Homo sapiens: one gene and its partners. The protein of the gene in region 1 purifies or fractionates together with the protein of each later gene. This does not show direct contact. Each region holds a gene or a part of one and is shown on either strand. Other genes may lie near its edges.

Region 1 (3,500 bases):
CAGTTTCTTGGCCTTTCTATGCCTCAGTTTCCTCATCTGAAATATGAAAACAGTAATAAGCATGCCCACCTCACAGAGCTTTTGTGATATAATTACATGACTTCATGCATATAAAAGCACTTAGAACAATGCCTGGCACAGAAAGTATTACTCCTCACTCTGAATTCATAAATTGGACAGAACATCAATGGAAGCTGGAGTCCTTAAGTTCAAGAAAATATGTTTAAGAATTCTTAAATAAAAGAAGTAAACTAACCCATGAAAAATACCAGAAGTAGACATTTTGCAAAGACAGGGTTAAAAAAAAAAAAAAGTCAAGTTACTGAGTAAAACAGTAATGCCGATGTACTTATATGCTGTTAGGTCCAGAACAAACAGAATTTACAGACATTAATCAATCATGTTAAAACTTGAACCTCAACAGGAGTAAAGGAATAGCTTCATGACAAAATGATGAGGATGATGACCAAAATGACCGTAGCTAATAACATCTAACTCCAATTAAATGCTTACCATACTCCAGACTACCGAACGCTTTACATGCATTAAAACTAGCACAACCCTATGAGGCACATATTACTATTACAAAATAGAGGTACGGAGAGATCAGGAAACTCACAGAAGGTCACACAGCTAGTACCAAAGCCAGGATTCAAACCAACTGTCTGACTGCAAAGCCTATACTCTTAAGCTGCAGTACAATCCATACTTAACAACAGATCTTACGGTTACTTTAAAATTCTAGAGAAACTCCTACTAAAATATTTCTGAAGGTACTCTATTAACTGAATTAACTAGATGTATTAAAAATCCCTTGCCTCTATTCATTCAGAAGCACACACTGACAACTAAGAAGGCACTAAGCTTAGAGCTGGGGATAAAATGAAAAGATTCAATCTCTGCCCTTGGTAAGAAGCATCCTCTACAAATTAGCAGAAATCATAAGCTAAATTTAATGAAGCCAGACAAACCTGAGTAGCTTTGTGTTTCAGCTGGTTGCAGAAAGCCCTCACATCAAATTCTGATGACTCTTCTGTGGAGGTGGAAAAATTGCAGATACAAAACCTTAGGCATACTATTTTCAAATCTACAACAAATTCTTAAGTGCATGACATTTCTTGCCAAATTACCACAAAATAAAGGAATAAAGCAAGCAAATAACTAGGAAGCAACTACAGAAACAAATAAACAACTTAAAGTACTCAAGCTTAGAAAGCACAGGTATTACCATACCTCTCTAATCAATATGAGTCAAAATTAAGATGTGAGATGTTGAATTTCTTTCTATGCAATGCATGACTATTACTTTCAAAAGGTTTCTTTTTATTTGTTTTTTGTTTTACTAGAGTATGTGCTGTATCAAAGCAAATTACCTTTGAAGACTCTCTTATTCTTTACTGGCTGTCCAAGATCCACATTATTCTGTACATTGATCTTCATTTGTTTAGCTTTTTTTGAAATTCCAAGCAAGGTTTCTTCACTGGCTCTTGGTGACTGCTCATTTATTAAAAACAGTTTATTTAGCAATTTATTTATTCCTTTAGCTGCAAAAGCTATAGGCATTTTTTTCTTAAAGGCTTCAAAATATGGCTGTCCTAAAAATTCAGTGATATCAGAAGGAAAGGTAAAATCTTTGAAGTAAGGCATTGGTTGAATCCTAGCGACCTCTTGAAGCAATCCAAACAAAGGCTCATATAACAAAATCAACCTTTTTAAGACACCTTTATAGAGAACCCTAGAGAAAGAAATAGGAGCTCATTAATTAGCCAGTAATTACAATTTGCAGATTACATAATAAACTGCAAGATTGAAAGCTGAAAATAAATGGCTATCAAGGTCCTCCAGTACAGATAAAAAACACTATAGTGCACACTTGCGAACAGCCAGATTAGTCCAACCCAACAGAAAAATCCAAGTATAAAATGTTACTCAAAAAACTGTAAGACAGTCTACCAGGAAAGATATATATATATTCAAAAAGTACTACATGGAGAAATGTACAAAAGGATGCATATCAAAGTTTTAAGTGTGGTAGATGGTGAGATTTTAGGCAAATTTCAGGTTCTTCACATTTCTCTTTTTAAATTTCTTAAAACAGGCATGTATTATAATCAGCAAAAATTAAAGCTATTTTCATTACAGAAGAGAGTATCAAAGGTTTAGCATTTTAAAATAATATGATTAGTAATCAAACATTGTTACCTCTGATTAAGAATAAGTAGAATAAAAAATAAAACAATAGGAAATACTATTTGAGATATCCAGGTTAAGATATCAAAGCAAGGTTTTCAATCTCTAAACACAGAAACTTTTTTTCTTTTCTCCATCCAATGTTTTCTTACATTCATATTAGAACTAATAATCTTAATTGTTTGAAATGGCCCAAAACAGGCCTTCTTACAGATACGGGCAAATTCTAATTATCCATCAGATCAGTTTCACAATATGTACTGAGAGACATGAAAGAGATGTCTCTTTAGTTTCCAAGTATTACCAGCATACATCAACTAAATATGCTCAAAAAAGCAGTGGTGTTTGAGATGGAAGAAAATAGTCTAGCACATAAGAAGGTCAAAAATTGCATTTATCATTGCCATTAAAAATTAGAAACCGAGTGACAGAAAGAATCAAGTGATACAGCCAGCCCAGGATTAGCATCATTTTAAACGGCCTGTTGCAATATGACTACTACCAACAATTTTTTATTACTGCAATTCCCAGTCACAGGCATTAATTTTTTTAATGTTCAGTAAAAGCCCACTGATGTTTCACTACAACCTACCATGACCCAGATTTCAGTGTGACACCAGTCACTCCCGATTTTTTTAGTTGTTCAGTGATTGGGCTGATCTTGTGGATTGAGATACAAAGCCTACTCCTTTGATACAGCCATCAGCACTCGGCTTCCCAATCTACCCTCAAAAAACTCTGATCAAACCAAGAAAGAGAATACCTGCACCTTCCATAACCCCATAAGAAAATAAGTTTGAAAACTACTAATAAGAAACCTAGGCTGAAAGGAGATGAGAAAGAAATGAAGGATGTCAGAGGTATGTACATACCATAACCTGCTCACCAGCCCAACCATCACAAGGTTTAAAATAATGAACTCTTGCAAACCTAGATGTTTCACAGTCAAACTGGAAAATCAATTTAAGGTAGAAAACAAAATCAAAGTAATGTGGGTTTTGTAAGTTACAATCATGAATGAAGAAATATATTGGAAGTAAAGAGAATTTTCTTAAAGGTATTAAAGCCTTAAAACACATTCTATTTAAGAATTTAAAACTTTAAAATATGGTTATAAACACTCTGCTAGAGTTCCCATTATTAAATTTAGTTCTTAAAGTTTAGTTTCTAAGATTAAGAATTTCTAGCTATCAATGCTCTTAGGATAATACGTGCTGAACAGTGACAGGCAGTCTCTGGCAATGGCTGCATCAGGCAATTCCTGAGAAAAGGAGGCCAAGAAGCAAAAGTTTAAGAATTCCTGTAGGTTG
Region 2 (3,500 bases), on another chromosome or scaffold:
AGGAAAGAAGAAACATAGACACTGTTTAGGTTTTTGGTCTGAACAACCAGTGTAAATAACTGAGTAATTAACTGAGATGGAAAAGACCAGGAGGGGTTGCTGTGAGGAGAATCGGTGGCAGCTTTGGCTATGTAAAGTCTGAGATGCCCCCTGAACATCCAGGTGGCTATGTCAAGTGGGCAGCTGGATGCCTGAGCCTGGAGTTCAGGGGACAGGCCTACGCTGGAGATGTCACCTTGGGGGCTGTCAGGTGTAGCTGACATTTGAAACCACAGCATTGGATGAAAGGGATTCTGTGTTCAAGATCCCAGGCCGTGGGTGAGTGCTCGCAGCCACTGTGCCCTTTAGGGTACCAACAGGGGTCCCTGTGTGGAGAAGGTACACAGAGACCACTTAGGGTGTGTCCAGCAAATGGCCGGACTGGCTAAGACAGCCAGCGAGAAGCATCTCCCACCCTTAGCGTGGGGATGATGGTGACTGGGGGCCATCTCAGGGAATCCACACGGTAAAGAGTGTGTCCAACAGAACACACGCCCTGGGTCTCCACAGAGTGACAGAGTGAACCTCTGGATGGCCATGTGCTACACGCTCTTAGGTAAATTACCTGAAATAATAGCCCCGTGAAGATCTGCCTTTAAGAGCTTGGCCTGAATCATCTGTGGCTGCCTGCAGGGTAAACAGAAGCCCTTGGTTTACATCATGATAAAAAGTTCCAAAAGAAGCAACTAGGTCTTTAACCGTCTGCAGCCAGGCAATACCAACGCTGGTTCCTGAAGCCGCATTTACAATGATCAGAGGCTTGAGATCCACCCCAAAGAGCAAAGCTTCAGGAATGCAACTTACGTGTCTGGCTTGAGCCCACTGCACAGGTCCCTGATGTACTGTTTCCAGAGTTCATGGAGAGGGAGGAAAAGGCTGTATCTGCAGCAAAGTCAGAAACAGGGAAAAAGTTAGACAACATGAGCTTGGGATGACAATGTCCAAATAGCACAGAGCTTGACTTGATGCCAACAACTGCAACCTGGGATCATTAGGAACTATGTGCAAATCCGACGATGAGCAATTGAGCTGATAACCGAGACCAAGAACCTACACCTCTCTAACCTCAGTTTCCTCATTGGTAGGACCACACCAGCCCAGGGCGGTGTCCACCTGGACTTCTTTTCATGAGAGAGAAATAAACGTGAGTCTTGTTGAAGCTACTGTTATTTTGAGGTTTTCTGTTACGTGAAATTGAACCTAGTAAGCCCCCAGTAAAGCAGGGGTTGCTGGTTGTCACGCAGGTCCTCATGTGAGGCAGCAGGCTGGTCTGGAAGGTGGGCAAGCAAGTGGTGGGGAGAAGAAGCGGGGAGCAGGGGCAAGGACCCCAACAGCGTTCTTCTGGGCCATTATCTCCAGTCTTGATATCCTGTGGGGAATCCGTTACCACAAAGCCTTAGGTTAGAGAAATGAGGACCTTAAGCTCAAACCCAACCTGGGCTCCACCCGGGAGGCAAACCCTGGGAGGCAGCAGCCCCTTCTCCACCTGAGGCCCAGCTGATCTCCTGAGTGGGGCCGGGAACAGCATGGCATACTTTAAGCGTCTTCTGGAGCGTGGGAGGCTATTTGGCCGTTGATCTCCAAGCAAAAGCCTACAGACAGCCCCAAGACACCCACACTCAGACCCGTCACCAAGGAGGGATGGCGGGTCGGCTGGAGGAAGACATCCTCCCACAGGACAGGACAGTGATGCATTCCTTTTGGAAACTTCTGAAACGTGTGGGCAACATCTTGCTTTGGCAATGAAACCCGAGTGGGTGACTGTCTGGCTCTATCAAAAGCTACAAAGTAATACACACTAAAAACATATCAGTTCCTCTTTTCTGTCTAACAAAGCCGAAGGACAAACAGCCTGTTGCCATGGGCAACAGATGTACTTGCACGGGTCTTACTCCTGAAGGTGAGGAGAGAGGCCAGACAATGAGTCCTGTCTCACCCGCCTCGCTGAACACAGCCCAGATTGGTAAAGGAAGGCTGCCCTCTTGTGGCAGACGACAGAGAGGCCCCCTTAGCTTAGGTGGAGCCAGGCTGCCTCCCCAGCCACTCAGCCAAGTTCACACACCAAGAAGGGTAAGCACCGCGGGCAGAAAGACGTGGGGAGCTCGGGTTACCTCTGCTGCTCTGGTTTAATGTCAAAGAGCCGCAGCTCCCTCCTTTGCCTGGCAGAGAGGCCTTTGGCTTTCTTCTTCTTCTCCTTGCGCTTGTGGCGGGTGAAGTACTCCAGGACCACCGCCTTGCGCTGCAGCTGGTCCTCGCGGGCCTGCGGGCTCATGCGGGGCGTGCTGCGCTTCAGGAAGGCCCTCACGAAGGCCTCGGCCCGCTGTGCTCCTGAAGGCTGCAGGCGGACAAGGGGGTGCGGCGCTCACTGCTCCGGTCTGGGCAGCCCAGGATCCCAGGCATCCCGCCCGCCATTCCCGGCAGCTACTGCAAGAGCAAATGGGGCCCATCCCTTTACCTACTGAGGCTCTCAACCTGCTCATCCGCCATGCATCTGCTACCCACAGCTGCCGAGATGTAAGTCACACTCACACACCAATTCATGACCGTTTGTCACACACAACAGCGTGTCAAACGCTCACTTCCTGCTCTGGCCCTGCTTTTCTGAGGTTATTCTGAAAGGACCAAAACCTTTCTATCTTGAAGAAGAATTCTCTCATCCTTGGCAGAAGAGAAAGCTTGAGAAATGTATAACAAATATATTCAACCAGGCATGACCAGATGAAAGTGAGCTCAGAGTAGCACTAAGCTATGGAGGAAGTGATCCTAACACTACAGAAAACAGCAAAACTAGGGCTCCAGGGTCGGCCAAGCCTCAGGGCGCAGGGACCCTGACACTGTGCCCTTAGGACAATACTCCTTAACCGGGTTTCCAGCTCTGTGGGCATGGTGTGGCCACTCTCCAAAAGGTCCGCTCCCGCCCCGCAGACCATCACTTGGAGGAAGGTACCGTCGAGAGCATCTCAGGCCCCAGGCTCGCTCTCTCTGAAGGGTGTCACTGAGAGCAGGGCGTCAACTTACCATGAATGAGCACAGGCTCTTAGAGAGGACTTCTGGGAAAAATGACTGTCGTAATTGTGTGCAATTCTCAAACAAACAAACAAACAAACAAACAAACAAAGAAACCCTCCAAGCTCACTACCTCTCAGGTTGGAGTTCCAATAACGGATTCCTCATTTGGTGGCAATGCCACTGCCCTCATGCCTGCCACAGACCTGGGCAGTTCTCTCTCCTGAGGGCCTGTCTCCTGGCTGGGCTGTTTCCTGAGCTCTTTTTGCACTAGCCAGGTGCTAAATGCTAAGACTGAGGCTGACAGACTGATGCTGATCTGTCAATAGTAACGCAGCCTTCCTTCTGTGGGAGAGCAATGGGGATGGGAAGATAGGGTACATATAGCCTTCGAGGGAGCTCACAGTATGATGGTGGGAACTCTGCTTCAGCTTTGCACCTGTAGATGCTAACTA
Region 3 (3,410 bases), on another chromosome or scaffold:
GGCTGTTGGTCAGGGAGTGAACTAGCTGGAGCTTGGTCTTCTGCAAGCTTGGTCTTCTGCATGCTTGGTCTTCTGCATGCTTGGTCTTCTGCATGCTTGTTCTTCTGCATGCTTGGTCTTCTGCATGCTTGGTCTTCTGCATGCTTGGTCTTCTGCAAGCTTTGTCTTCTGCATGCTTGGTCTTCTGCATGCTTGGTCTTCTGCATGCTTGGTCTTCTGCATGCTTGGTCTTCTGCATGCTGCAGCTTACCCTTAGCAGATGTTTGGTTTATTGAGTGAGCTGGAGCAGGGGTAGAAACTGACCTTTAATGACCCGGAAGACTGGTTATCTTGTAAAAATAATCCACTAACATCTTGCAGGTGTAATTTCTTGTTTTAAATTTTTCCTCTGTACTTTCTCTTCCAGGTTCTTGCTATGCACTAACATACAATACACATATTGATGAAGATAATACTGTTGCCCTGCTACCAAATGGTAACACTTTATTTTTTCATCTTTCTTTAATTGTTAAAAAAAAATGCATACTGTAAAAAAAAAAAAAAAAAAGTCAGCTGGGCACGGTGGCTCACGCCTGTAATCCCTGCACTTTGGGAGGCCAAAGCAGGTGTATCACCTGAGGTCAGGAGTTCGAGACCAGCCTGGCCAACATGGTGAAACCCTGCCTCTACTAAAAATACAAAAATTAGCCGGCGTGGTGGCTCATGCCTGTAGTCCCAGCTCCTTGGGAGGCTGAGGCAGGAGAATCGCTTTGAACCTGGGAGGCGGAGGTTGCAGTGAGCCAAGATTGCGCCACTGCGCTCCAGCCTGGGAGACAGAATGAGATTGTCTGAAAAAAAAAAAGAAGATATTCAAAAGAATGAGTATACCATGACTTATTTATTTCATCTTTAGTAGAAATTCAGATTATTTTAAATTTCACTATTATAAATAATATCCTTGGATGTATAATGTATAAATAATATCTGTTACAAGACATGTATACACATAAATAATATTCTTGTGATATAAATAAGATCCTTGTATGCAGTTTGTTACATTGATATCTAACTGCTCAATTTGCCTTGCTTTCTTTTAGTCAGACAACGTAAGTTCTAGTTTTGGTATCTTATGGGAGTTATTATTTGATTTATAGGGAAATTAATTTTGTCACTGGATAAAGACACTTATGAAGAAACTGGACTTCAGGGTCATCCATCTCAGTTTTCTGGCAGAAAAATTATGAAATTTAGTAAGTATCATGTGTGTTCCATCTGTTTCTAATCTTCTTGTGGCAATTTAAATTTAAATGTTTGAATTGCCTCTAATCTCTTTGTTCAAAAAAATGTGGCCTTTTAAAAAAAATCTGTCAAACTTCTGACTCGAGCTTCACAGAGGATAGGATGATGCTTTTAAGTTCATTTCTTTTCAGCTGTAGATGCATTTAATAAAGATTGTAGACTTGGACTGGTCAATTAAATATATATGTTTCGGGTTAAACCTTGGCAGGCCAAGGCGGGCGGATCATGAGGTCAAGAGATTGAGACCATTGTGACCAACATGGCGAAACCCCATCTCTGCTAAAAATGCAAAAATTAGCTGGGCGTGGTGGCGCATGCCTGTAGTCCCAGCTACTCAGGAGGCTGAGGCAGGAGAATTGCTTGAACCCGGGAGGGGGAGTTTGCAGTGAGCCAAGATCGCACCACTGCACTTCAGCCTGGCGACAGAGTGAGAGTCCATCTCAAAAAAAAAAAAAAAAAAAAAAAAAATTCCAAGTACTGAACCCAAGATAGGAGTCTACAACTTATTCTTAATAAAGAATTTCCTTTGGTTTCCCCAAGTCTTTATGATTACTAGTAGAAATTCACCCATGAGTGAAGAGATGTTTTGCTGACAGCGTCTGGCTCGAACATCAATAGCTAAGGCCGCCACATCCATAAGTAGATTAAACCTGACCTCTCAAGGTCCTCTGCCCTTGGTCTTTGACCTAGGAAACATATAAATTGAAAATGTCTGTTTTTATTAGCTCTCAAGGTTAGAAGTGCCCACCAAAGGGATCTTATTTATTTGGCAAACCAAAGGGAGTGGAAGAAGAATAAAATAATTTTACTATCCATAAAATTTCCCAAAATTCTAGTTTTTAAAAATGTAACACTTTTTCCATGGTAGAAGCTGTACGTATATGAATGAAATATATGTTCTTTTTTTCATTTTTAAAGTTGTTTCCATTGATTTGATGGAATTATCCTTAAACTTGGATTCTAAGAAGTATGAAAGAATATCTTGGTCTTTCAAAGAAAAGAAGCCATTGAAATTTGATTTTCTTTTGGCTTGGCATAAAACAGGTATGAGGAATAAATTATGTAATGATACAGTGATTTTGAAAGTAATTGTTAATTAAAGAGGAGTAATGGAGGATTGAATGGTGATTCACTCTTTAGTCAAGGAATATTCTATACGTATATATAAAAATATTATTAAGGAAACTAGCCCTTCTGACATCTCTGAAAACCATAGTTCAGGATCATGTAGGCACGCAGGCCTTTCTGCCTGCGTCTCTTTGGGTTATATGTAGATCCAGAGATCTTGAGAGTGGCTTCAGAGCAGCTAAATTTTATCTATTTCTCCCCTTTCCTCTCTCCAGCTTACCTTGAACAGCCTTGACTATAATATTTTTAAGTAGCACCAATTATATACACAATCTGCTTATTTATTATCACAGGGTACTGACTCAGGCCTACCATTAAATGTCAGATGAATTTATTCTAACTTTTAATTGATTAGGACACTAAATTTAGTTCAAAGTTTGCTATTCACCACACAGCGTAATCTGCCTAAAACGGCCATGTATGTTGCTCCTTTTAGAAGTGTATCTTTGACCCAGATAATAATGGATCAAGTCATCAGGAATTATGGTGTAGTACTCTCTTTTGGAGGATAGGAAGCATGGTGGTCTGTTTTAGAAATAGCCCCATCTGTCTGCTCCTCATGGGAAGTGTCTCGTCACTGGGTGCTCCAAGTTGCTCCCATGAGTCCTAGGTCTGGCCTTCGGTGCCTCTCCTTCCATATATGGTAGATAGAAAAGAGGGCAGAAAGGCTTATTGAAGTTTCAGTTGCGTGAAGTCTTCTATGCAGATCATCCAGACGTTGGATTCTGGATAGCTCCCTATTCCTAAAGCTCCTAACTATTTTAAGGATTTGTCAGGACTGTGAAAGTTCTGAGATTTCCTCATACTTGCAGGCTAACTAGGTAGCCTGCTACAGTCTCAGGGATGCTGGCAGAAGACACATAAGCCCTGGGTCAGAGACACAGGACTTAATTCCTCAGAGGAATGGTAGTAGCCAAAATGTATTAGTCAGGGTTCTCCAGAGAGAAAGGACCAATAGGATGGATGGATGGATGGATGGATGGATGAGAGGAGATTTATTAGGG
Region 4 (2,444 bases), on another chromosome or scaffold:
TCTGTGTTTCTAGCCATTTGGGCATCAGGCTCAGGTTGGGCAGAGAGTTGGATTTATCCAGATTTGGTTTATCCAGATCTGGTTTGATTTATCCAGATCTGGTTTATCCAGATGAAGACACTGGGGTAGGGATTGGTCATATGATTAGTGGTAGACTTTATACTTGGATAAAGAGGGGAGAAAAGGGGAAAATGAGGGTTGTTTTTTTTTTTTTAAATTGTTTTGTAGAAATGGAGTTGCACTGTGTTACTCAAGCAGTCTTGAACTCCTGCCCTCAAGTGATCCTCCCCAAGTGCTAGGATTACAGGTGTGAGCCACTGTGCCCAACCTTGGAGTGAGATGAATAGGTGATAGAATCGCTGTATTACAGGTCCTAGATTAAGAATGAGAAAACAATAAGGAATTACCTAAGAAAAATAGGAAGGTACATAATTGGAAAGTTGAGTGGTATAATTGAAAAAACCCAGGTAGAAAACAGCTGGACTGGGAGGTCAGTCTGAAAGCCCAGGTTATTAGAAGCTGTTACACTCGAACCTTAGTAATAACTGCAGTAAGAAAAAGATAGTAAATGGAGCAGAATCCAAAATAAGATGGAAAGCCTAGTTTTTAGAAACTGGGAGAGTTGATTTAGAAGCCACAATAAGGTTAGAACAGTCACCACTGTAGGGTTGCAGAGAAAAGTCAGAACAATTTTGTTGAAGATTCATCATGAGTTCCAAAAGATGTGGGGAAAGAGTTTTAGAATGTACAAAGGTAAATGTGAATTTATTCCCATGATGACTCATGGATACTAAAGGCCTGGGGCTTTCTGGAGTGCTCAGAGTATGGGCAGAGGAAAGGCCAGGAATCCATCATTTCTGAGCACTGGGGGAAAGAAAATCCCAAAATTTAGTATCTTTATCTTGGTGATTAAAAGACTCAAGCCTGTAATCCCAGCACTCTTTGGGAGGCCAAGGAGGGAGGATAGCTTGAGGTCAGGAATTCAAGACCAGCCTTGGAAACATAGCAACACATCGCTACTAAAAATCAGACATTAATGAGACGTGGGGGGCTTGCCTATAGTCCCAGTTACTCAGGAGTCTGAGGTGGGAAGATCACTTGAGCCTGGGAGATTGAGGCCACAGTGAGCTGTCATCATTCCATGGCACTTTAGTCTGGGCAACAAAGCAAGACTCTTCCCCCTACTCAGCATCCCCCCCCCCCCAAAAAAAAAAACCCATCTCTTTACACAAATTGCCTACAGACCACTTGATACAGAATGGGCCAGACATGGTGAGTTAGTTGTGAACCAACTGGTTACACTGGTGGGTGTGTTGAAGAGAGAAGGTTTTATCATTCTTAAGTTTGACACCGTTCATTGCAGGGGCCCTCCTCGCCAAAGACAGCCTAGAGAGGACGGCAATGAAGAAGATAAAGAAAATCAAGGAGATGAGACCCAAGGTCAGCAGCCACCTCAACGTCGGTACCGCCGCAACTTCAATTACCGACGCAGACGCCCAGAAAACCCTAAACCACAAGATGGCAAAGAGACAAAAGCAGCCGATCCACCAGCTGAGAATTCGTCCGCTCCCGAGGCTGAGCAGGGCGGGGCTGAGTAAATGCCGGCTTACCATCTCTACCATCATCCGGGTAAGCAAGCTTGGATGGCCATCCATTTATGGCAGTCGTGAGTGGTGACCATTTCGTTTTATTAATGCAAGAGTAGAAAAACCTCAGTTCCATCAGATAATGAAAGCCATGTTATTTATAATGTGTTCTGCCCTATTCTTAATTACCTAATATTTCATTTTAGGAATATTGAATATCAGAGTCATATTTGGCCACCCTTCAGCTAGTTCTCAATTCTGACACTGGAGACCTGTATTTTCATGAGTATTTTGAACTATTAGTGCTTTCTATCAACTTTTCTGAATGAATTTTATGATTTCACTAGTAAACAGAGGAAAGTTTTGCTAGCTGTATTCTGAGAAATATGTTAATTACATTATTATTTATGCATTATTTCAAAAAGGAAGTGGGGATAGCTGTTAGAATTAACCTAGATGGTGACAAATAGAGTCTGTTTGGAGAAAGTGGCAACATTAATATAATCTTTTAATCATTTCTAATTGTTTTTTTTTTTTGTTGGTTTATGTTGTTCCCGGAAAAAGACGAGAGTGTTTCGTGTCTAAAAAACTCCTAGAATGACACGTGGTTTATCATGGTTTATTTAAACTGCCTGTAGATTAATAATAATAATTCTCTGGCAGACCACATGATACAATTACGTTCTTGTTACTTTAGCTCATTAGCTCACTTGTTTTTATTACCCTTAATTCCAAAATTAAGGGATTCTTTTTCATTTCGCTTTTTACATGATATCGAGAGGTACGTGATTGTTGTTCCCTCCAAAATTAGCATTCAACCAGTGGTGCTTTTGGTTTTTTCCCGTTTACTATTTGCTG
Region 5 (3,500 bases), on another chromosome or scaffold:
TCATAGGTGGGATTTAAATAGATAATTGTCACCAAGTTATAAAATTTAGTCCCTGTTTCCATAAGAGAAGGGTTGCGCAGTGGCTGGTCCCTTTTATATATAAATCATCTCTTTAGCCCTCATCTTCCTCACCCCGGGTTCTTCCCCATTTCATAGATTGGGAAAGTGAGGTGAAATCACTTCCCTGGGATCCCATAGGAAGGCATTGTGTTTTCATAATATATTCACATGACTTCAAATTCAAAAAGCACACAATGGCATAGAATGGAAAGGGTTTGGGCCAGTCACTTCCCTCTGGCGTTGAGGTGCTCATGTACCCTGTGCCCTTCCGGAGAGATTCCAGCATGCTGTGCACACCTGCATGTTGACCCTTGTCTTGCCTTCTTCCTGCTTGTCAGATCCTTCCATATCCGGACATGCGTAGTGCCTCATCCTTGCAGCCAGCGGCCTTCATGCTCCACTGTAATTCGTGGGTTAGTGGGTATATGCACTTGTTGTTTTTGATGCTACCACATGGGGATATTTGCCTCGTCTGAACTCTGTGTATTCTCTGCTGCACCTTGTTGCTTCTTTGCAATAAACTTCCTGAACTCAAAGCTAATACTGGGGGGAATCCCAGAAGCTGCTGAGGGCAGGGCCATGCTGCTCAGTGTTCCACCCTAGCTCCTGACAGCATTTCCCTAGAAAACTGCTGCTGGGCCTCTAATGGAGCAAATAAATCTGTGTACAACTAGGCAGCAATAGTTTGTCCAAAAGTCCTGGTGTAATCTAGTCCCTCAAACTGTGCAGCCTTACATGGAGTACACACACACTTGCAGCCTTGAAGTACTACCCACTGAGGGGAGAAGGCACGGCAAGGGGAAAGGTTGGCACAGGATGGAGCAAGTGCTTTTTCTCACACATTCTGGAGGAAAAGTTATCCAGTTCTTCTGTTCTAGAAACACCCCTGTCCTTCAGAAACCAGGGTCTAGTTGCTCTGGCTACCAGGCGTGAGCAGGTGGTGGTAGCACCACAGGCCCCGGTTACCATCACTGTCCCATGTCTTTGATCTTCGTCCTTGTGGGGACTGGCCTGCATGGCCTCGGTGGCAGCGAGCCCTGCAGAGGCAAGTGCATCAGCATCACTGTGTTTGTTCCCAGGTTACGTCGGCGCTGCTACCGTGGGTGCTGCTGCATGGTGGTTCATTGCTGCTGACGGTGGTCCAAGAGTGTCCTTCTACCAGCTGGTACTCAGTCACCTTTCTTTCTGTACCTTACATGAGAAGTGTTGTGAGGCCTTGACCTTTCTGTGGTTTCGGTATCTATCAAATCATCTTAAGACTCAGACAATAAACAGTTACATCTAAGATGATTCTGAAGGACCAGGGCTTCTCCGAGAAATTGGGGTAAACCTCTTGGCTGGCTCTGCATTCAGGCTGGTCTGTGCTAGGCTTGGTATGGGGTTGGAGCCTGGACTTGGGAAATATACTGGGCTGATAGGAATTTGATTGGATTTTCTTGCAGAGTCATTTCCTACAGTGTAAAGAGGACAACCCGGACTTTGAAGGCGTGGATTGTGCAATCTTTGAATCCCCATACCCGATGACAATGGCGCTCTCTGTTCTAGTAACTATAGAAATGTGTAACGCCCTCAACAGGTTAGTGCACCTTCACGGCAGGCTGAGGCGAGCATGGTGACTGCCAGGGCACCGGGGAATTGTGTGTAGTCACGGTTGATTGAGGATCACAGGACAGTTCTTCCCTTCCCAAAAGAAAGGAGAACAGGCAATACCAGTTTTAAAAGCATGAGCTGTCGTCACCTCCAGGAAGTAGTGGGAGTGCTTAGCCCTGTGTTTCTTAGGAGCTCTTCCTTAAAAGAAACCGTGGGGGCCAAAAATAGGAACTTTGGTACCCCTGTATGCCAGCACCCACAGGGAAGGAACCTCACCCTTTCACACAGACAAATGGTACCATCCAGTTAAGCCCGTGACAAAAATGGAAATTTCTAAATAGCCCAAGTCTCCAGGGCAATTGGGAACAGCTTTGAACCCACTAAGATGGGGTCTGCTATGCCAAAACATAGATACAGAATTCACAGTTTGTCCTGCATTAGGACATTCTCTTCAACTTTGCCACTGTAGAAAGTGGAGGTAGGTCAGCGGATGGTGCCACATTAACAGCCGCCTTACTGAAGTGTAGTCCAACAGGGTCTTACTGCCACTGTGACACGTGCCTTGCCTTGGGGGTGCGTTTCCCCACCTCTCCTTGCTCTGCAGCTTGTCCGAAAACCAGTCCTTGCTGAGGATGCCCCCCTGGGAGAACATCTGGCTCGTGGGCTCCATCTGCCTGTCCATGTCACTCCACTTCCTGATCCTCTATGTCGAACCCTTGCCAGTAAGTGGTTGGGTGGGGCTTGGGACCAGCCACCTCCTTCCAGGGGAGGCTGGAGGCGTGACACGTCTTCCCTGTGTGTCAGCTCATCTTCCAGATCACACCGCTGAACGTGACCCAGTGGCTGATGGTGCTGAAAATCTCCTTGCCCGTGATTCTCATGGATGAGACGCTCAAGTTTGTGGCCCGCAACTACCTGGAACCTGGTAAAGAGTGTGTGCAGCCTGCCACCAAATCCTGCTCGTTCTCGGCATGCACCGATGGGATTTCCTGGCCGTTTGTGCTGCTCATAATGCCCCTGGTGATCTGGGTCTATAGCACAGACACTAACTTTAGCGATATGTTCTGGTCTTGACTGACAGTTTTCCATAAAGAAGATGTTTAACTTAATCAATTAATTTTTTTATTGTTTAAAGCAACTGTCTATTTCTGCTGAATTTTCACATGAACATACTGGCTGGTGATGGAGGTTTCATACTCTAGATTTTGTTTTGCTTTTTCTGACTCCAGTGGGGCAAGATTTTCCTTTTTTATACACATAATTAAAGTGTCCATTGACATGTACAGAGAACTAACACTATTTTATGCAAATATTTTTTTGTAGATGAAAAAGCATGTACAGTGTTCTGTTTAATACTCATCCTTGTATAAAAAAAATAGTTGAGCCAGCAGACATTGTCAGCAAATTAATTGGCAGCAGATTTTAGGAAATGAATGTGTGTGGTTTTTTTTCTAAAACTAAATAGCATGTATTGTGTCTTTTGCATGATGATCCGGATTTAATTTGATATCACAGTCTAATTTTTATTCATAAGCCAATTTTTCTGCACTGAGCAGAGTCTTGCTACCTCAGTCAGTATTGTTTTGGTTTGCTACTTCCCTCACCCACTTTGGCCTCCGTTCACCCCACCCCACCCCACCTCTCCCCACCTTACCCCCGCCCCGCTTGGCTTCTTCTTTAGGATTGTGATGGTTCGTTCTGTTTACATCAGTTTTAACGAGAGGTATGCCTGTACTCGCTTGTGCAGAAAACATTGTTCCAGATTCAATCGACTGGGTTTATGTCCCTTCACATAGTTTTTAAGGTTATTTATTTAAATGTCTAATGTATTTTATTGTAACAGACATTGT
Region 6 (2,598 bases), on another chromosome or scaffold:
GATGGGCCCGGAGTAGCCACAACCCTGGAACAGGGCTAGGCAGAGTCCTAAGGCCCAGTGCTGCTTGAGATTCTTAATAACGCTTTTGGTTTTTTCTTGGGTTGTAGGAAAATTCCTTTTGAAAATTCTAGCCTGTCTCAGCTCTGCTGAGGGAAGATGGAAACAGTATTTTTTGTTTTGTTCTGTTTTCCCCACATCTCACTCAGGAGAAGAAAAGTAGTGCATTCCCTGGAGGCTCCCAGGGTGGCACCGATAAGAGCATGTGCAGAGGTTCCCTCGCCCCAGCTAGCGCTCTGCCTTCCCTGCTTCTCAGCTCATCACTGACCTCGCCCATTGCCCTGTCAGTTGAGATCCCACACACACGCGTGTGTGCACAGATGCACGCAAATAGATGCACAGATTCCAGATGTCTGTGGAGCGGTGGTCTCCCAACCTCCCCCATGGAGTTCAAACCCTCACTGTCAGCTTCTGGTTGTGAGACCATCCCCCCTTCCCCAGGCCTCACCAGCCTGGAACTGCCTTTCAGCTTGAAACTGCTTGTACTACTTGCCTTGTTGGGGATAAGGGTTGGAGCAGGTGTTTAGAGGAATTGTTTTGTTTTGTTTTTAAAAGACAGGGTTGGCCGGGCGTGGTGGCTCACGCCTGTAATCCCAGCACTTTGGGAGGCCAAGGTGGGCGGATCACAAGGTCAGGAGTTCGAGACCAGCCTGACCAACATGGTGAAACCCCGTCTCTATTAAAATACAAAAAATTAGCCGGGCGTGAGGAGACTGAAGCAGAGAATCGCTTGAACCTGGGAGGCAGAGGTTGCAGTGAGCCAAGATCACACCACTGCACTCCAGCCTGGGGACAGAGCTATACTCCATCTCAAAAAAACACATAAGCCAAAAAATAAAAGACAGGGTCTCACTCTGTCGCCCAGGCTGGAGTGCAGTGGTGTGATCATAGCTCACTGCAGCCTCAGCCTCCTGGAGTCAAGTGATCCTCCCATCTAAGCTTTTTGAGTAGCTGGGACTGTAGGTATGCACCACCATGCCCAGCTAATTTTTTATTTTTTGTAGAGATAGGGTCCCACTATGTTGCCCAGGTTGGTTTTGACCTCCTGGCCTCAAGCAGTCCTCCCACCTTGGCCTCCCAAAAGTGCTGGGATTACAGGTGTGAGCCATCACGTCTGGCTGAGGAATACAATCTTTTTTTTTTTTTGAGATAGCGTCGCACTGTCACCCAGGCTAGAGTTCAATGGCACAATCTCGGCTCACTGCAACCTCCGCCTCCGGGTTGAAGCAATTCTCCCACCTCAGCCTCCCGAGTAGCTGGGACTGCAGGCATGCATCACCACGCCTGGCTAATTTTTGTATTTTTAGTAGAGACGGGGTTTCACCACGTTGGCCAGACTGCTCTTGAACTCCTGACCTTAAGTGATCCACCCGTCTCGGCCTCCCAAAGTGCTGGGATTACAGGCACGAACCACCGCGCCCAGCTGGAATACAGTCTTAAAGTAATGATTTATGAGGAAAAACACCTGATAAGATAAAAACTCACTTCGAGTATTTCTCTTAGCCAGGGTTCAATGATTCCAGGCAAGGGCCAGGCACAGTGACGGCTCAGGGCTGTAAACCCAGCACTTTGGGAGGCCGAGGCAGGCGGATCACTTGAGCCCAGGAGTTCGAGACCAACCTAGGCAACATAGTGAAACCCTGTCTGTACACAAAATAAAAAAATCATCTGGGCACGGTGGCCCACACTGTAGTCCCGGCTACTTGGGAGGCTGCAGTGAGCCATTATTGCACTAGTGTACTCCAGCCTGGGGGACACAGCAAGACCCTGTCTCAAAAAAAAAAGATTCCAGGCTGTTCTGCAGAGAGAGATTTGTCCTTAGCTTCTCCACTGCTGGTGGCATCTGGAGTCCCAGGTGCTGCTCTTCCTGCGTGATCTGCACAGTGTCCTGGGAAAGAGCAGGTGCAGATGCAGATGCCACATGTAGGACACCCCCTTCCACCCCTGCCAACCTTGGCCTCCCTCCCTCCCTCCCTACCTAGGACCTCTTCTCAGCTCTCATCAAGGGCCCCACTCGAACCCCCTACGAGGATGGCCTCTACTTGTTTGACATCCAGCTCCCCAACATCTACCCAGCCGTGCCCCCCCACTTCTGCTACCTCTCCCAATGCAGTGGCCGCCTGAACCCCAACCTGTATGACAATGGGAAGGTGTGTGTCAGCCTCCTGGGCACCTGGATTGGAAAGGTGAGTATAGGGCCAGGCCCCCAGCCAAGAAGGAGGAAGAGCCACTGGTGGATAGGGGCCTGGGGAACAGAATTGATGGTGCCCTGTGTGTTTCAGGGGACAGAGAGGTGGACAAGCAAGTCCAGCCTTCTCCAGGTGCTCATCTCCATCCAAGGTACAGTTGGGCTGAAGCGGGGGTGCGGACAAGGGAGGGCCGGTGGAGGAAAGTGACTCTGATAGTCCCCCTGGCAGGTGGAGGGTAGGCCTGCATTGTGGGCCTCTCTCACCCACTGAGGGAAGGTGTCCCGCCCACACAGGTCTGATCCTGGTAAATGAACCATACTACAACGAAGCCGGCTTCGACAGTGACCGAGGC
Region 7 (3,500 bases), on another chromosome or scaffold:
CCTTGTGACTGGTAATGGAAACTTTAAATAGTGACCAGCTTTTCAGAGTACTGTAATATACAAATACTATACAAATACTATAGTGGACTTCATTAACTTCATTATTAGTATCTGAACAACATACATTGCCTCAGTTATCAGTTTATTTTGATATACTTCTAAAAATTTATATGATGGTAGATGAAATCCTTACAGCATCAGACATGCGCACATTTGCTCTCTACTTGTCATCATCCGCTTTTTCCACATGAAAGCACCAAATCCACACTCCTGGGAGCAGAGCTTTGGTTCCCGCAAAACTCACTGAAGTGCTGCTTAGCATGACATCACCTCCATTAGCTAGTGCCCAGCAGGGTACAAATTATTCTGAGGATGGTGATCTCATCTTAGAAGGATAAAAAAATCACATCCTAAGGGAAATAGTCACTGCCTTAAATGAAAACAGAAATTTTGCCTGTAATCCCAGCACTTTGGGAGGCCGAGGCGGGCGGATCACAAGTTCGGGAGATCAAGACCATCCTGGCTAACACGGTGAAACCCCGTCTCTACTAAAAATATAAAAAATTAGCCAGGCGTGGTGGTGGGTGCCTGTAGTCCCAGCTACTCAGGAGGCTGAGGCAGGAGAATGGCGTGAACCCGGGAGGTGGAGCTTGCCGTGAGCCGAGATCGCGCCACTGCACTCCAGCCTGGGCGACAGAGTGAGACTCCGTCTCAAAAAAAAAAAAAAAAAAAAAAGAAAACAGAAATTTTGGTTTTTAGAACATTCTTATTTGACAAAATATAAATAGGAAAAATAATTGTGATTTAAAAGATTTATCCTGGCATAGCAATGGACTTAACATGAATTGTTTCTTACTGGGCTGATGTGTGTGTAATTCTGTTCAATTCAGGATGCTGCTGCTAAGAAAGGAAATTTCTGAACACATATGTTTATGGCAAAGTTCTCAGTAGACCAACTGATATTACTTAGAAACCTGGAACTCAGGTCTCAGAATCACTTGTCTAGTTCCTGGATCCCTTAACACTTGCCACCAACGCTGTAACAGTCAGGTCTTCAAACACAAAAAAATATTGTCAGTATAAATTTACTTCACTCTAAAATAGATACTTAGACATTTCAAGCTGTGTTTTCCTACACAAGTAAAAAACTAGAATGTTCTCCCTATTTACATGGTGGTTAGCCAACTACTCATTACAATACTGAAGTAAAGCAGACTACAACATCTATAGCATTAAGGCAGAGAAATAAAAATTAATTTCTAAAGTGAAATTTCTATATTAAGCTATAAAGTATTAACAATTTGAAACAACCTGTTATTAAAGAGTGAATGTGTGAAAGTGTGCCTGTGGTGGGGAATTCAAAAGGAGATGTTAAATTAGGATTGCCAGTCTCTAAAACTGAAAGAAAAAATACATTATTTTACAATAGGATTTAAAATATTTGATAAAGATTTCTCAGGGACAAATACTATAGTGGACTTCATTAACTTCATTATTAGTATCTGAACAACATATATTTTCTCAGTTATCAGTTTATTTTGATATACTTTAAAAATTTATATGATGGTAAAGGAAATCCTTACAGCATCAGACATGCGCACATTTGCTCTCTACTTGTCATCATCCGCTTTTTCCACATGAAAGCACCAAATCCACACTCCTGGGAGCAGAGCTTTGGTTCCCGCAAAACTCACTGAAGTGCTGCTTAGCATGACATCACCTCCATTAGCTAGTGCCCAGCGGGGTACAAATTATTCTGAGGATGGTGATCTCATCTTAGAAAGATAAAAAATCATATCCTAAAGGAAACAGTCACTGCCTTAAATGAAAACATTTATGTGCCAGTCTCTAAAACTGGCAATCCTAATTTAAATTTTAAATCTCTAAAATTCTTAATCAGCTCATTAGGCTGTTGCTGGTTCCTGTCCTACAGGGAAACTCTGAGGTAAGAAATAAAATCTGGTCTCTGCCCTAAGGGTTTTTAAATCTCAAAGTGAGACCTAAAAAACAACTGTTAGTTTCTGAATCATGTCCATGAATGTAAATGCTTTTAAGAAACATTTACTAGTAAAGATTTACCAAAACAGTAGCCAAAGGATGTGGCGTGAGAGCTGTGTGCAAAGCGCTGCGTGATGACTGTCCCTCTTAATGCTGGCTCATACAGGCTAGGTACTGAACTCAAAGTACAAGCGTATTTTCGTGAGTCCTCCCAATGACACTCTGAGGCATAAGGATCCCCACTGCAGAGTTCAGGTGACTGAGGCTAAGAGAAGTTAATGAACTTTAAAGTCGCACAGCCAAGATTCAAACTAGGATCTTCCCAACTCAAGAGGGCAGACTCCCACTATTCTGTAGACAGCTTAGTACTATATAGGAATGATAACACTTAACTTCAGGGAAGGAAACAAAAATCCATAATCTCAGAAGCTTTAAATAAGACAAAGAAAATAAATAACATGATAGAAAGTTACTGCAGAGATAACAAAATAACATAATGCACTGAATTCTAATGAATGAAAAAATGGCAAAAATGACTATGGCATTTCTGATGCGACTAGGTAGTTTACTTTTGTGTTTTCTTTCCTTTTTTAAAAAAATTTAACAAACTTCGCATGTGGCATTCAATTTACTTCTAAAGTGAAATAGGCCAGACACAGTGGCTCGCGCCTGTAATCCCAGCACTTTGGGAGGCCAAGGTGGGAGGAATGGTTGAGATCATGTGTTCAAGACCAGTCTGGGCAACACAGAGAGACCCCATCTCTATAACAAAGTAAAAACAAGTAGCCTGGCATGGTGGCACACACCTGTAGTCCCAGCTACTCAGGAGGCTGAGGCAAGAGGATTACTTGAGCATAGGAATTGGAGGCTGCAGTGAGCTATGATCGCACCACTGCACTTGAGCTTGGGTGACACAGCAAGGCTGTTTCTAAAAATAATAATAATAAAAGTAAAATAACTGGTTTCATGTTCAGCGTTAGGTATATGTCATTAAAACATATTCCCTGTATCTCTGTGTTCCTCCAAAGGAAAAGTGAAGCCTGTCCAGCAGGACTTCTGGGGAGATTACACTTCTGTCAAACAACTTGAAAAATATCAGGATTATATTTATTACCTGTCAGAGAGGACAAAGTCTCAAAAGCAGTCACGTTTCCAGATTTAGCAAATGAAACAGAAAGAACATCTGTTTCACAATAGTTTGGACAAGAAAAGACTTCAGTTGTGATGTACCAGAGGTTTTATCAAAATCTTTTCCCATCTGGTCTCTGAATTCATTTGAGTACGTATAAGAATTATCAAACTGGCGATTGTAACTGGGCCTGGTGAAGTCAATCTTTTAATATTTGTTATGTAATTAAGGTAAAAATATGAGAACAGGAATGTAAAATCAAATACAGAATACATTGAAATAAGTTCCATTGTACTATACAAACAAACCATCCTTTCCTTTCCTCTGGCAAGGGCCACGTGACCAGGAAGACAGTACAGAGCACTCTCCACTA

Evidence for each region.
Region 2: the proteins of RMP64 (region 1) and POP4 purify together in Homo sapiens (affinity purification with mass spectrometry; 4 studies listed by BioGRID and IntAct, with this or other methods). This does not show direct contact.
Region 3: the proteins of RMP64 (region 1) and RPP40 purify together in Homo sapiens (affinity purification with mass spectrometry; 2 studies listed by BioGRID and IntAct, with this or other methods). This does not show direct contact.
Region 4: the proteins of RMP64 (region 1) and YBX1 purify together in Homo sapiens (affinity purification with mass spectrometry, with the first as the bait; one study listed by BioGRID). This does not show direct contact.
Region 5: the proteins of RMP64 (region 1) and ATP2A2 purify together in Homo sapiens (affinity purification with mass spectrometry, with the first as the bait; one study listed by BioGRID). This does not show direct contact.
Region 6: the proteins of RMP64 (region 1) and UBE2O purify together in Homo sapiens (affinity purification with mass spectrometry, with the first as the bait; one study listed by BioGRID). This does not show direct contact.
Region 7: the proteins of RMP64 (region 1) and CASP3 purify together in Homo sapiens (co-immunoprecipitation; one large-scale study listed by IntAct). This does not show direct contact.

Annotation. Positions count from the first base shown.
Region 1 is NC_000003.12:113,009,672-113,013,171, forward strand, and holds part of RMP64 (nucleolus and neural progenitor protein), read right to left. Parts: intron 3,141-3,500; coding exon 3,063-3,140; intron 1,736-3,062; coding exon 1,374-1,735; intron 1,034-1,373; coding exon 972-1,033; intron 1-971. UniProt on the Homo sapiens protein: May play a role in cortex development as part of the Notch signaling pathway. Downstream of Notch may repress the expression of proneural genes and inhibit neuronal differentiation thereby maintaining neural progenitors.
Region 2 is NC_000019.10:29,609,283-29,612,782, reverse strand, and holds part of POP4 (ribonuclease P protein subunit p29), read right to left. Parts: intron 2,375-3,500; coding exon 2,151-2,374; intron 922-2,150; coding exon 844-921; intron 667-843; coding exon 605-666; intron 1-604. UniProt on the Homo sapiens protein: Component of ribonuclease P, a ribonucleoprotein complex that generates mature tRNA molecules by cleaving their 5'-ends.
Region 3 is NC_000006.12:4,997,628-5,001,037, reverse strand, and holds part of RPP40 (ribonuclease P protein subunit p40), read left to right. Parts: intron 1-406; coding exon 407-475; intron 476-1,133; coding exon 1,134-1,229; intron 1,230-2,196; coding exon 2,197-2,322; intron 2,323-3,410. UniProt on the Homo sapiens protein: Component of ribonuclease P, a ribonucleoprotein complex that generates mature tRNA molecules by cleaving their 5'-ends. Also a component of the MRP ribonuclease complex, which cleaves pre-rRNA sequences.
Region 4 is NC_000001.11:42,699,418-42,701,861, forward strand, and holds part of YBX1 (Y-box-binding protein 1), read left to right. Parts: intron 1-1,363; coding exon 1,364-1,598; 3' UTR 1,599-1,629; intron 1,630-2,444. UniProt on the Homo sapiens protein: DNA- and RNA-binding protein involved in various processes, such as translational repression, RNA stabilization, mRNA splicing, DNA repair and transcription regulation.
Region 5 is NC_000012.12:110,343,747-110,347,246, forward strand, and holds part of ATP2A2 (sarcoplasmic/endoplasmic reticulum calcium ATPase 2), read left to right. Parts: intron 1-1,139; coding exon 1,140-1,225; intron 1,226-1,502; coding exon 1,503-1,636; intron 1,637-2,254; coding exon 2,255-2,372; intron 2,373-2,454; coding exon 2,455-2,724; 3' UTR 2,725-3,500.
Region 6 is NC_000017.11:76,391,555-76,394,152, reverse strand, and holds part of UBE2O ((E3-independent) E2 ubiquitin-conjugating enzyme), read left to right. Parts: intron 1-2,039; coding exon 2,040-2,243; intron 2,244-2,339; coding exon 2,340-2,397; intron 2,398-2,539; coding exon 2,540-2,598. UniProt on the Homo sapiens protein: E2/E3 hybrid ubiquitin-protein ligase that displays both E2 and E3 ligase activities and mediates monoubiquitination of target proteins. Negatively regulates TRAF6-mediated NF-kappa-B activation independently of its E2 activity.
Region 7 is NC_000004.12:184,642,948-184,646,447, forward strand, and holds part of CASP3 (caspase-3 isoform a preproprotein), read right to left. Parts: intron 1,776-3,500; exon of another isoform or gene 1,596-1,775; coding exon of another isoform or gene 1,584-1,595; intron 1-1,583. UniProt on the Homo sapiens protein: Thiol protease that acts as a major effector caspase involved in the execution phase of apoptosis. Following cleavage and activation by initiator caspases (CASP8, CASP9 and/or CASP10), mediates execution of apoptosis by catalyzing cleavage of many proteins.